Homo sapiens: one gene and its partner. The protein of the gene in region 1 interacts with the protein of each later gene in a pairwise test. Each region holds a gene or a part of one and is shown in the gene's direction. Other genes may lie near its edges.

Region 1 (4,593 bases):
ATATACACACACACATATATATACACATATACATATATATACACATATATATACACACACATATATATGTATATATATACTACATTCTTGATCCTAAGTCTTTTTTAACTTAAATTTTATTACTTATACAGAATTCTTATTTATACTTTAATTATAGGTGTGACGAAGAGAAAGAGAGTAGGGAAATACACAGGCAGTGGTTTTAAGTGTAGATGATGGCTCCTTAACCCAGTGTCATTAGATAATCAAACCTAAAGTCTTCCCATATTAGGCAAGCGCAATTCTCTATTTTGGACCCTTCCCATTCTTCCCTTACCTTCTGCTTTTCGTACTGAGGAATTTCGTGTGATTTTAGATAAAGTGATAATGAGATATTGAGCAAATAAGAAAATAGAGGTAATGCTATAAAAAACTAAGCTATGTACACTTTCAAAATGCATGTTTCTTGCATGCTTTTTACTACTTAATTGCATTCTTTGCTAATTTCCTTTCCTTGCTGTCTGTTCTTTTCTAACAGCTGAAGAATGTTCTGCTGACTCTGACCTCAACTTTCTTATTCCTGTTGCAGTGGGTGTGGCCTTGGGCTTCCTTATAATTGTTGTCTTTATCTCTTATATGATTGGAAGAAGGAAAAGTCGTACTGGTTATCAGTCTGTGTAATCAGTTAAATCTAGTGTTTGTTTGTTTTTTTCAATTAGAAGTTACGTTTCCATTGGCTAAAAGCCAGGACATGCTGTGCAATAGATTGTTTAAGATATGCAGACTAACTTCAGTGAGTTCCTAGCTAACTTGGGCATGAGTACACTTATTTAAGACAAAATATATTAGGACCAATTTTTTTCTGTTTTTTTTCTTCCTTTGTTAAAGTATAATTAAAAGAAAAATTGTGGCTTAGAATTTTTTAAGTAAATAATGATTTTAAGCCCCTGGATCCAATTATGAAAGCATTTTTGCTGATGTGTAATTTTATATGTTACAGTTACTTATATTTTACTACTTTGATGTTATTTGCAAAATCAAAGGTGTTAAAGAATTTAACTTGCTTCAGGAAATAAATTCAAGAACATAGTGGATTCATTTTCATTGGTGGCAGACACGAAATTTGGTTCATGATAAGACTTCCTTTCCCCACCTCCTGATCAGCATTATTTAAATCTGTATTTTTCTGTTAGTTAAGAAAGAAATGGCTTCATGATATTGTATTTAATAGCAAAAGTTTGGCTGTCTTCTTCATTACTGTTAATAGCTACTATATTTTAACAAGGAGATTTCTTTTTTTGTTGTTGTTGTTCTAGAGTTTGGAATATACTGATTATCTCAGACTTGACATTTATACTGAAGGATGAAGTAAGACCTCCAGCTTTTTTTAAAAAAGGTGTTGATTTGGAACACCTGTATGGGTTATGGTTTATTAAGGTTATGGTTTAGAAAGTTTTTTTCCCTCAGAGCCTTAACTTGTTAAGAAGGTTCATTTATCCTGCACTGAAAACAAAAACTCTATATACTTTGTTTGTGTGCCTCCTGCACTCTCCCATTCCCTATGTGAATATGCTCTAGTTGATATTTTTAATATATTGATTTCTTTTTTCTCACAGCAACAAGTGCTTACTCTAGAGGTTAGTGGGCCCTGATATGTCATCAGTCAGATGCCTGCCTAGCCAAAGCTGGACTAAGATTATTCTGTACATTTGTTGATCTTGATATAGACTTATATCCCTGTAGGGACTGCTAATGGCTCCGGCTTCTGGAGTAAGGTACTGGAGACCACTCATCCCTGTGTCTGCTTGATTGGTTCAGCTGTTGAATTGCCCTTTTATTTGGAAGCAGTGTTGAAGTTGTCTAGGGTTCAAATGGCTGCTTTGTACACCTGTCATTAGTATAAGGCAGATGTTTATTTTATCAAGCTATTTTATCTCTACATTTAACTAAAAACAAAAGTTCCCAAAGATCTGCCTTCACTTCAGAAATTTTTTTTGGATTAAAAAAATTAAGCCTGAACCTTAAATAAAGTGAGTTGGTTATTCATTCCAAGGATTAAGTCCCAATCTACCTCTCAGCACAATGCAGAAGCTCACCACTGTATTGCTGCCATTAACTCATGCCAGAACCCTTTGCCAATAACTGGAATTACAAATTTTTGTTAAAGAAAATTTATCAAGATCTTTCTTTACTGCCTTCTCTATATGTACATCTCAAAAACATGTACATCTCAAAAACTGGAGTAGAAAGTTAGATTGCTCAACTACAACTCCTCTAGAACTCTATAGCTCTGACATACAGATTCACACTCTCCTCTATTTGCTAAGTATGTAAAGAATGTTTTCTTTTAAAATGTTCTCTTTTGAGAACAACTGCTTATTTGTTATAAAAGCATTTGGTTAAAATGATGTCATCATAAAAAACAGTGGCTTTGTTTCAATACATATTTTTGAGATGATTATCTAGAAGCCAGATTAATAAAATCAGCTTGTGACCTTGCTAAGCATATAAACTGGAAATTCAGATACATTCAAAATTATGGGTTCATTTAAAAGTGTTCTACCTTTTGGGTATGAGACTAATATCACTAATTCCTCAATAGTTATCATGGCTCTATCTTAATTAATTAGAAAATATGTGTGTTTAATTCTTTGAGAATTAAAATAGAGAATATTAACAGAGGGTTAAAAACTGCTTCAACTCCAATAAGATAAAGGAAGCTCAAAATCTATGAGCTGAGTGTTCAATTAGCTTTGCCTACTGAGTTCAATTTTATGTCAATACAACAGTGGATCAGACAGTACGACTTTGAACTGGTGAATGTAAACAATTGTTTTTCACCTAAGCTGCTTTGGAAGAACTGATGCTTGCTGCTAACTAAAGTTTTGGATGTATCGATTTAGAGAACCAATTAATACCTGCAAAATAAAGCATACTGTGGTACTTCTGTTTGATCTAGTATGTGTGATTTTAGATTGATGGATTAAAAATTAATAAAGATCATACATTCCATACCACTATGGATAACCTCATTTTTATTCCATATGCTCAGCCTTAAGAGCTTAGACTTAATTGTATAATCTAAGTTTCTTGAATTCTAGTCTCTTGGATTGTCAACAGGAATCATAGGATCTCATAGATCTGCAACTTAACCAAGTCCCGTCATTAGGAAGGCACTAGTACAGAACCTTTAGTACAGACACCTCAAATAGGGGGACCTACTTAGTCATGGAAATTACAAGAAAACATCAAAAACAAAATATGGAAATCTAACAAATGTAAGAACATCATAACAAACGTACTTTCCGCGTATGTCTGTCTGCATTGATGAACTATACTAATTGTTGAAGTTCATTTCATTCTGAGTGAGATATACCTCAGGGATATGGTGGGGCAAGGGGAGGAGCTATCCATTTTGTGAATTTCCTTTAAATTCCTTACAATCTAGTCTAATGCTTAATTTTTATATAATTGGATAAAACAACAACACATACATAAACATACTCCTTTTTACATGAGAGGTATTTTTGGTGGGAGAAGGAATTAGACATTGGCTCCCTCCATAGTTCCAGAATAATAGGGTTTCATTTTCTGAAAGACGTTTAATAGCTTGTAATTAAGTCAAAAAATGGCCTTCATAACTGCCACCTCATGAGGCCTCTGAAAGAAGCACTTTAAGTTGACTGATAATTAGGAAGAGTGGTTCGATATATGTTGCTGTGAGGGTTACAGTGTATCTAAAAAGTCAACTTGGAGGGTCATCTTTTTAACTTCAATGTGTATACTTTTTGAATGCCAGAACTGCCTTTAGAATTCTGATGAAATGTTTTTCCTTTCCTTTGTTTTTACTGTCTGCATGTATTTTGATAGCAGTGTAAGTTTGGGTCCCTTTAATTTCAAGAGGTATGCATAATGAACAGGAGAAATCTTGCCATACAATGCATCTTTAGTAGGAAAAATCCATAATTTTATTGAGCAGTTACAGTGCTGTGCACTTTAAACACCTTATTTCATTTAATACACCAACTCTCTGAGGTTGGGGGTATCATTTCCAGTTTACATATGGGATAACTGAGGCTTGAGTTGGTTACTTAACCAAAGTCACACAGGATTAAGTGGCAAAATGGACATTTGAACCCAGTTCTGTTTGCCCGCCAAAGACCATGCAGTTAACCACTATACATCTGCCTTTTGCAGAAGCAATAGATTTTTTTAAAGCACATGCCTTACATTAAATGGTTACAGAAATCTGACTTCTGTACTCTTCTATCTTGTATGTAGTTGCCTTATAAATATTCTTCAATATTCTTAAAATAACTTGAGTTTTATCCAGCCCACTTGTGGGGCAGATGGATGTTGTGGCAGCATGCCTTTTGGAAGATCAAAACCAAGGCCAGTTTGCACTGTACCTCATCAGTAATATTAAGCCCGAATGTCACTTTTTTCAGGGTAGCCTCATCTAGTTATTCTGATCACATATCATTGTCATTCTGCTCTCAAACTCTTCTGTACCATGAATCATTTTGACTGTGCATTAGTGTGTTTAAGAAACTAAATGGAACTGTCTCTCTTCTCACTTTCCTTAATACCATTCATACCCCTTCCCTTCATCCC
Region 2 (4,384 bases), on another chromosome or scaffold:
GAAAAGGGCCTAGCATGTTGTAAGTGCTACTAAGCATTTGCTATTATTATTACTTTAAAAAATTGTCTTTGTTTCAGGGGCTCGAAATAATCATATATGCATCACTGGGACATAAAATAGACTTTGTGTATATTTTTTATTGACTTTTTTCATAAAGGCTATTGTAAGCACTGTATCATCACTAATAATTTTACAAAATATGTTATTTCACCTTAAATGAACACAATTTAAAAATTGTGATTTTTTTTTTTTTTTTTTTTTTTTTCTTTTGAGACAGAGTCTCGCTCTGTCGCCCAGGCTGGAGTGCAGTGGCGGGATCTCGGCTCACTGCAAGCTCCGCCTCCCGGGTTCACGCCATTCTCCTGCCTCAGCCTCCCAAGTAGCTGGGACTACAGGCGCCCGCCACTACGCCCGGCTAATTTTTTGTATTTTTAGTAGAGACGGGGTTTCACCGTTTTAGCCGGGATGGTCTCGATCTCCTGACCTCGTGATCCGCCCGCCTCGGCCTCCCAAAGTGCTGGGATTACAGGCGTGAGCCACCGCGCCCGGCCAAAAATTGTGATTTTTATTGGCAGTTGGGACCAGAATCCCATGCCACCTCCACTTTTTCCTGACACCCCATCTGTTCTATGTTATTAACAGAGCAGAAATACTGGGTTCCTTCTAGAATAAATAGATGTGGCTAAACTTCAGCTTTGACACTAAAAGATTAACCTTTTGACAGGGTCAACATGTATCTTAGCTATCTTAAGGCTACCTATGGAGAGTACCAGGTGTCAAATAAAAATGTATTACTGTTTGGGAATCATTCAGGAACTATGTATTACCCCTTTTGTTGATTATTTTTAACTAATCACTGACCACAGATTAATATGTTTTATACTTTGGGACAGATGATTCTAAATCATAACATTTGAGTCCTAGTTTTATGAACTACCCAAGGACACTGTTCCACAGATATATCTGGATGAAGTTTGGCAGTTAACTATTATAGACTCTTCCTAGTACTGGAAAAAAGCTTTAAAATATATTTAATTTAAGTTTAGAGTCAAGACAGCCTGAGGCTAGTGAGTAACATAGATATTTTAGGAATTAGTGTCTTTAAGACTAACATAAGTCAAACGTTTGTACACTATTTTTGACATGTACTACTTATTATTGCTGATTGAGATTGTAATACTGTATTATTGTCTTCATTTTGCTTATTTAACACTGAATTTTTTGGTATTAGGTACTGTACTGGGGTTGGGAAGAAGACTTAATTAAAAGTTACTAAAAGGTTCTTCTTTCAGGGAGTTTACAATGTAAATATAGGTGACAACAGGCTATAGTACTATGTGGTAAATTGTAATTTTGTCTAGGACAGAAGTCAGCAACTATAGCCTTTGGACCAAATTCAGCTGCTGCTTGTACACCACCACACCCCTTCTTTTATGCAGCTTTTGTGCTACTATGGCAGAGTGAGTAGTTAGAGACTTTATGGCCCTCTACAAAGCCTAAAATATTTACTATTGGCCTTTTACAGGAAAGATTTGTTAATCCCTGATCTAGAGGAATTGAAGTCTTTGCAGAGGAGATTTTAAATTTAGGCCTTTGGAAATGTGAGTAAGATTTCATTCCAAGATTGCCAGGAAGAGTAGAGAAAAAGCATTCTAGGCTTAGAAAGCAGCAACAACAAAGAATGGTACTAGACGGATAGCATGTTTGGGAAACTAGGTAGTGTTCTGGGCTAGACATAGGGAAATGACTGGAAACATAGGATTGGGCCAGATTGGTAAAGTCTTGCAAAACATGAAGATTTTGAATTCTAGTCAGCAGAGATCATTCACAATTTTTAAGGGAAGGGGATATGATATGTTTGAGAAAGAAAACTGATGAGAGTATTATTGATGATGAGTTGGAAGGAAGAGAGACTGCAGACAGAAAATACTATTTTTTTCGCTGAGGATGGCGAGGGTGAAAAGAAAATACATTTAAGAATAAAAAAGAGGCTGGGCTTGGTGGCTCATGCCTGTAATCCCAGCACTTTGGGAGGTCAAGGCGGGAGGATTGCTCGCTCACAGGAGTTTGAGACCAGCTGGGGCAACAAAGTGAGATCCTGTCTCTACAAAAAAATTTTAAAAAATTAGCCAGACATGATGGCACATGCCTGTAGTCCCAGCTACTTTGGAGGTTGAGGTGGGAAGATTGCTTGAGCCCAGGAGTTGAGGCTGCAGTAAGCTGGGATCACGCCATTGCACTCCAGCCTGGGCAACAGAGCGAGACCTTGTTTTAAAACAATAAATAAATTAGAAAAAAAACAGTATTCTCAGTACTATAGGACCTGATTAAGTTTGTGGGACTGAAAATGATTTATGCTTTTCAAATATGGAATCTAGCTGTAAATGTTGCTGTTATCTTTTGGTTGGGGTAGGGGAGGCAGCTGCAGTTACTATGGTGGTAGTGGAATGAGTTTGGAGTCCAACATGTCTAACTGGTATGTTTGGATAGAAATTTCCGAAAGACATTGAGAAATACAGTTAAAGCTGTATTTCTAGCATTACCTATAATAATTTTTAATTTACTTTTGATGTGATGTTTTTGGATTTGCCGTATTCTTAAGTGATTTTTACACATTAAAGGTCTAAGAAAGTATTTTGATGAAGTACATTTCTGATAGTATGTGTAATTAAATCATTTGAAAATACAGTTGCATGGACAGAAATTTGGAGTTTTGTGAAATAAATGAAACCCACCTTAACTGCCTCTATATCAGTTTACTAATATTTTCATTGAAAATAAATATATTCCTTATAATTAAATTCTACTTTGTGGAACAAGAATAGAACCTGAAGGCATGGAGGAGAGTCATTATAAAGTTATATATTAGGTAATGTTTTTGCTGTCCAAAATGATGAGCATTTATAATTCCCAAGAAAAGCTGCATTTTAAGGAAGAATATTGATAAAAGAATATATAGACACATAGCTCTGAAATAACTAACACAATTAAAGTACCAGTGGGATAAGAATTTATACATCTTGGAGCCCCATCTGTTCCCCAATCACCCTGTTGCTTCTTTAAGTACATTAATACTTTCAGCAAGCTGCTTTTTTGGTTCACCTGTCATGTAAATTATTTAATTGGTGAAGAAAATTTCTTAACACTTTTTTTCCTTGTCCTGCTTTTTTGTTGGGACTAAATTCAAAATAAGTTGAGTATGTGCCATAGAGTTAAGTGTGGTATTTTATTTTGGTGTTATGGCTGTAGATATGCCAGCTTCTTTTTGACTGAATATTTATGAGCTTTGATGATTTGCATACTTACAGTAATATACTTCAATTAGTTACTTGGAAGCCTTTTTGGATAAAATTAATGGATAAAAGGAAACTATTGAAAATATGTGTAGATGATATAATAGTCATTTGAATAGGTGATTATTGAACCAAATACGGGTGAAACAGCAGCAAAACAACAGCTTGTTGGAGACTTCGATTGTATTTTTTTCATTCTGGGTTCCTTAAACATTCCAGTATTTTCCATCTATAAGCAGTTGCTTTTTTTTTTTTTTTTAATGATTCTGTAACCTTCAACAGGACCGAGTTATTTTTAATAGCATAGTAAAGGCCATAAATACCTTTTCTTGTAGTGGCAGATAGTGTATATAATTACTTCAGAGATACTTATTTAGATACTGTTAGAATTTTATTTAGTAACTTACCAATTTTTATGCCATAGATTTTTATTTTAATTTTTATTGTGGCTATTGATTAAAGACTGGTAAAATTGAAAATACTTAAGCTTATTACTATGTTATTACATGTGATTATATTTAGTGTATTAAAATACACAATTACCATTGAGGTTTGAAACTACATTTATTTTTAGTTAGTTGTCTGAGAGTGATTTATCCAAACAAAATGGGTAAGCTTTAAGGAGACCTTCTTTGCAGAGGTTTTTTTTGGGTGGGCTTTCCTGCTATAGTCAGATTTGATCCTATTTACTACTTTGTAAATTTTGGAAAACCAAGAGGTTCTTCTAATCACAAAGGTATTAGTGGAATTTTCAAATGCTGTCTGAGATTGTGCCTGTGTCTGCGATGGCAGTACTTTTTGTCTCTTGCAGTTTTTCTTGTTTTGAAGTTGGATTAAATTTGAGGAAGAATCAGTGTTAGTATGACGTTTAGTCAGCAAGCAGCTTTTATTTAGTTAGCTCCAATTATTTTGTTGGTATGTCTCTCCACAGGTAGATGACACACTCCTTGTGTGCTTGATGTCAGTGGAGCCTAGTACAATTCTTGATAATAGTAGATCTTAAATAAATATGGTATAAATGTAGTCCTTTTTATTTTGCCTCTGTGTGATATAGTTTTGCTTACTTTTATAATAAGACAAGTTGCTCATGA

What was found. The genes of interacting proteins can lie anywhere in the genome.
Region 2: the proteins of LAMP2 (region 1) and CETN3 interact in binary tests that used the Homo sapiens proteins (3 or more experiments, as listed by UniProt).

What each region holds. Positions count from the first base shown.
Region 1 is NC_000023.11:120,424,551-120,429,143, reverse strand, and holds the end of LAMP2 (lysosome-associated membrane glycoprotein 2 isoform A precursor), read left to right. Parts: 3' UTR 1-517; coding exon of another isoform or gene 518-660; 3' UTR 661-2,996; downstream 2,997-4,593. UniProt on the Homo sapiens protein: Lysosomal membrane glycoprotein which plays an important role in lysosome biogenesis, lysosomal pH regulation and autophagy.
Region 2 is NC_000005.10:90,399,757-90,404,140, reverse strand, and holds part of CETN3 (centrin-3), read left to right. Parts: intron 1-4,384. UniProt on the Homo sapiens protein: Plays a fundamental role in microtubule-organizing center structure and function. As a component of the TREX-2 complex, involved in the export of mRNAs to the cytoplasm through the nuclear pores.